Linked DNA regions of Homo sapiens: region 2 is linked to region 1. Evidence: fine-mapped expression QTL. Tissue or cell type: whole blood. Region 1 holds a variant in brackets; the other region holds the start of a gene. All regions are shown on one strand. Distances are between the middles of the regions.

Evidence for each region. PIP is the estimated chance that this variant, and not a neighbour inherited with it, causes the effect.
Region 2: it holds the start of LTBP3, and the variant in region 1 is fine-mapped to the expression of LTBP3 in whole blood (INTERVAL, PIP above 0.99).

What each region holds. Positions count from the first base shown.
Region 1 is chr11:65,325,916-65,328,667 of GRCh38, forward strand. It overlaps LOC124902691 (a long non-coding RNA gene), which reads left to right. Exons shown (of 2, transcript XR_007062728.1): 2 at 473-2,310. Among named protein-coding and RNA genes, the nearest start is that of DPF2, 6.6 kb to the right of the region's middle. The variant G/A (reference allele first, on the strand shown) is at 1,623.
Region 2 is chr11:65,556,952-65,559,451 of GRCh38, forward strand. LTBP3 (latent transforming growth factor beta binding protein 3) reads right to left here and starts at 1,408. Exons shown (of 28, transcript NM_001130144.3): 1 at 678-1,408. The coding sequence starts at 1,008. RefSeq lists silencers at 1,237-1,476, 1,527-1,686.

The DNA of each region.
Region 1 (2,752 bases):
TTACATTCCCACCAAACTTTATGTTTTTGTTTCCCTTTTTTTTCTTTTTTTGAGACAGAGTTTCGCTCTTGTTGCCCAGGCTGGAGCGCTATGGTGCAATCTCCACTCACTGCAACCTCCGCCTCCTGGGTTCAAGCGATTCTTCTGCCTCAGCCTCCCCAGTAGTTGGGATTACAGGTAACTGCCACCATGCCTGGCTAATTTTTTACATTTTTAGTAGAGACAGGGTTTCATGATGTTGGCCAGGCTGGTCTTGAACTCCTGACCTCAGGTGATCCATCCATCTTGGCCTCCCAAAGTGCTGGGATTACAGGCGTGAGCCACTACTCCCGGCTAACTTTTTGTTTTTCACTTGAATTTTTTGTCATCATATGGAGACTGGAGATTTGATATACTATCAGGAATGGGATTTAAACCCAGGTCTGTGGGACCCCAACAGCCTGTATTTGACTGCATCTCTCTGTCCCTACAGGGGTTCAGCTTCAGGCCCTGGTAACGTTTGTGAAGACAGAGGGTCGGGGAACTGAAGGGCCAGCACCTTCTTACCTGTGGGGCCCCTCAGCACTTCAGTGGTTTATCTCCTGCTCTCTGGGGAGGGGAAGACAAGAAAAAAGGACACCATCCTTAGAGCTTCACCCAGTGGAAGACAGCAACTCACCCTGGACCTGAGCTGAGGCCGGAGTAGCCATGGAAGGAGGAGATTCTTGTCCTGGGTCCCCAAAGTGCTCTCAACTCACCCTGCATCAGGCACCAGCCACAGGGCCCTGGGAAACCACTCGGGGCTGGTCTGCCCTGTTGGGGTGGAGAAAGGGAACTAGGCAACAGAACTGAAGCATTGGATTAGCAGCTCAGGATACCGCCTTCAAACAAGGTAGCTGGCCGAGCACGGTGGCTCATGCCTGTAATCTGAGCACTTTGGGAGGTCGAGGTGGGTGGATCACCTGAGGTCAGGAGTTCGAGACCAGCCTGGCTAACATGGTGAAACCCCCTCTCTACTAAAAATACAAAAATCAGCCAGGTGTGGTGGCGCGTGCCTGTAATCCCAGCTACTTGGGAGGCTGAAGCAGGAGAATCACTTGAACCTGGGAGGTGGAGGTTGCAGTAAGCCAAGATCACACCACTGCACTCCAGCCTGGGTGACAAGAGCGAGACTCCGTCTCAAAAAAAAACAAAAAAACCCAAACCCTCCCTCCCCCCCAAAAAAAACAAAGTAGCTAAGGTAGAGAGAAGGACCTTCCCACTTCGGCTTATCTAGACACTATACTGCACAAACACACCTACAAAGGAATTCCCCAAAATAGGCAGAGAAGTTGTTGGACAATCAACAAAATGACAAATGCCCCTGCGGTGCACTGTTTTACATGCCCAACAGTCATCTATATCCTATTCTCTGTCTTCAAAAAACAGCAACAACATATCTGGCCTATGTAGTATAGTGAGTCTATCCCTCTTTCTGTCAAAAATACATTCACTCGGCCGGGCACGGTGGCTCACGCCTGTAATTCCAACACTTTGGGAGGCCGAGGTGGGTGGATCACCTGAGGTCAGGTCAGGAATTCAAGACCAGCCTGGCCAAGATGGTGAAACCCCGTGTCTATTAAAAATACAAAAATTAGCCGGGC[G/A]TGGTGGTGGGTGCCTATAATCCCAGCTACTCAGGAGGCTGAGGCAGGAGAATCGCTTGGACCTGGGATGCAGAGGTTGCAGTGAGCAGAGATCATGCCACTGCACTCCAGCCCAGGCAATAGAGCAAGACTCCGTCTCAAAAAAAAAAAAAAAAAAATTCACTCTCTCCGAAGGGAGACAAGTCAAAGTCTTGCTAATTATCATATCCACTCCCAAGTCTAGCGTTTCTGGATGATGTCCATTCCTCCTGCAATTCCCTTATCATCCATCTCAACATTTTGCAACCTATGAACTGTATCGTAAAGTTAATTACTACCAATACACCCTATGTACAGGAGCAGAGGGAAATAAAGAAGAATGAAGAATTAAAATCTATTAAAGGCCAGGAGAATGGCTCACACCTGTAATCCCAACACTTTGGGAGGCCACGGCGAGTGGATCACCTGAGATCAGGAGTTTGAGACTGGCCTGGCCAACATGGTGAAACCCCGTCCCTACTAATAATACAAAAATTAGCCAGGCGTGGTGGCACGTGCCTGTGATCCCAGCTACTCGGGAAGCTGAGGCAGGAGAATCTGGGAGGCAGAGGTTGCAGTGAGCTGAGATCATGCTATTGCACTCTAGCCTGGACAACAAGAGCAAAACTCCTTCTCAAAAAAAAAAATCTATTAAAAATATACTAACTGAGTGCAGTGGCTCACGCCTGTAATCCTAACACTCTGGAAGGCCGAGGCAAGCAGACTGTTTGAGTTTAGGAGTTCGAGACAGCCTGGGCAACATAGCAAGACCCCGCCTCTACTAAAAATACAAAAAAAAAAAAATAGCTGAGCATGGGTGTGCAACAGTGGTCCCAGCTTCTCTGGAGGCTGAGGTGGCAAGGATCCCAGGAGGCAGAGGTTGCAGTGAGCCAAGATTGCACCACTGCACTCCAGCCTGGATAACAGAGCAAGACTCTGTTATCAAAAAAACACAATTTTCTTTTTTTAATTCAGCTGGGTGTTGTGGTACATGTATGTAGCTTCAGCTGCTTGGGAGGCTGAGATGGAAGGATCGCTTGAGCTCAGGAGGTCGAGTCTGCAGTGAGCCAAGATCGTACCACTGCATTCCAGACTGGGCAACAGGAGAGACC
Region 2 (2,500 bases), 230 kb after region 1:
GAGGGTGTAGGGGCTTGGGGGAGGATGAGGGGGGCCCTGAGGGCCTCTGAGGCAGGATGTTAGGAGCTTATGGGGAGGCATTGGAAAAGGAGAGGCTGAGAACCCCGAACTAGTCCCTACCTTCAGGCCTGCACCCTACTTTTAGGCCTCAACACCCTCCCTACTCAGACCTTGCCAGTAGCCGGCTCCCATCCCCAGCCCTGACCTTAGCTCCTCCTCCCAGGGAATGCAGGTGTCTACTCTGGCAGGCCCTACTTTAGACATTTTGTAAAGACTTTTCTTGTTTCTTCCAGCAAGTCTGCTTCTTGCGGGAATATTTAGCCCTTCTCTGAGGCTTCCTGTCCCCGGCTCACATTCCTCAAAAACCCTGTGTGCTCCTGCTCAGAACTCAGCACCTTCTGGGAAGCCAGTGTCATCCAGGACCTCTGCATTTCCCCACCCCTTAGGCCCCAACCCTAACGCAAAGCTTCAAAGTCCAGGCCTCCATGCAGCCCTCCAACTCTGGCCCCCAGAGTTCCAGCCTCCCAAGTTCCCTGAGGCCCCTGGTCCCCCAGGCCCTCGGATCTCTGCCCTTTATACCCTCAGCCCCCAGTCTCTAAGGCCAAGACCCCACTAGCTCTCCCACCGGGCCTGGTGCCTGTCCTTCCCCTGCCCCCAGCCGTGCCCCCGGCCCTCACCCACGCGGAAGCCGGAGCCCGTGAGCGTGTCTGTGCTGTGGCCGTTCTCTCCGATGAGCGTCATGTTGGAGCCCTGCTGACAACTGTCCCGACACTGGCCCTTGAGACAGGTCCGCTTGCAGATCACCGGCGCAAAGACCACCTTGAAGCGCTCGCGGGCCAGCGCCCCGCCCCCGCCTGCGCCCCGCTCGCCGGCCGGCCCCCCCTCGACCCTGCCGCCCAGGCCCAGCAGCAGCAGCAGCAGCAGCAGCAGCAGCGCCAGCAGCCCCGCCGCCCCCGCCCCGCGCATCTCAGGGGCCAGGCCGCCAGCAGCCCCTCGGGGCCCGGGCATCCGGGGCCGCAGGACCCGGGGGAGGGGGGGCGCGCCCGGGCGGGGCGAGGGGCCCGCGCCCGAAGGGAGTAGAGGGCCGGGAGCCCCGGGAGAGGGTAGGGGGCAGCGAGGGAGGGCAGCGGGGGAAGCGGGCGGGAGGGGACCGCGGGGGCCCGGCGGGAGGCGCGGAGATGCAGACTGGACAGCGGGGAGCGCAGAAACTTCCCAGCCCCAGGACGAAGCCCAGACCAGGCCCCGAACTCAGGCAGGAGCGAGGAGGCCGGAGCAAGTTGAGGCGGAGAGGAGGAGCGAGGGAGAGGAAGGCCGGGCGGCCGGCCCGCTCCGCGCCTCCCCCTGGCCGGGCTCCTCTCCCGCGGCCGCGGGGAGGCAGGGAGCGCGCGGGGAGGGCTCAGGGAGAAGTGAGCAGTTGTTTTCCCTGGCTGGAGCGCGGCGCGGCGGCGGCGAGGGGGGCTGGGACGCTGGCCCCGGGCCAGGGACACAGTTTTTTTTTTTTTGTTGTTTAAAGCGTCGCCTCTGCCGCCTGGAGAAGCGAGGGTGTGCAGGCTGGCGGAGGCTGGGGGGTGGCGCGGGGACAGTCCCCACCCCAGATGCCCGCCCCCGCCGGAACCCGCGGCCGCGCTGGGCCCTTTCCAGAGGGCCCTCACCTGGGACCGTCTGGCCGGCCGCGGATTCCTCCGGGCGGGGCGGGGCGGGGAGGCCTGCGTAGAGCGAGATACCGAGGCTGAGGGAGAGAGGTGGCCCTGCCGGGTCACACTGACGATGGAGGCCGGGTGGAGCCGGAGCCCAGGCCTTCCAGCTCTTTCCCAGCCTCCCTTGCAAACGTGGGGGTCTCAGGGCCCCAAAGTAACTTCTCGTTAGTGCTGGTCCAATCCCCTCTGAGGAAAGGGCTAAAGGGTGGGGACAGCCTTTGGCCAGGGCTCACGGAGGTCCCAGGAGGAAGTCTGTGGGGTCCAGAAGAGGAGCAGAAAGAACAAAGCTAGAACCCAGCTTCCCTGCCAGCCCCCTCGGAATGGCTTCCTGGTGCCCACCCTGCCACCTCCCCCCTTTCCTTTCGTCTGGCCGTGCTGGCGGGGCTGGCTCTGGGCCTCAGACACTCTGGAATCGCCAAGGTCTGAGCTCAGGGCCTGGCCCCCTTCCCAGGCTAACAGCCGGGAGGACGGGGGCGCTGTCCGAGGGCCCAGGGGCTGGAGAGGGGCACAGCAGAGCCCCAGGGCAGGGGCTGGCAGCGGCTGGGGGTGGGGGTCTTCAGGTTGGCCATGGCTGGAGAGGAGCATAGTTCCAGACCAGGCTTGTCCGCTGGTCTGGAAGGAAAGGCTGCAACGTGCGGGGGCCCAGGCCTTACTGTGGGGCCTGCCAGGAGACCCCAGGGTTCCGTCTCTGACTCACAGAACTCAGCAGGAGGTGGGGACGGCTAGGGCACATCCAGGAAAAGCGCTGCCAAGTCAGGGCGGCACCAGACCCTCTCCCGGACAGCACCCGGGGCAGCAGTCTA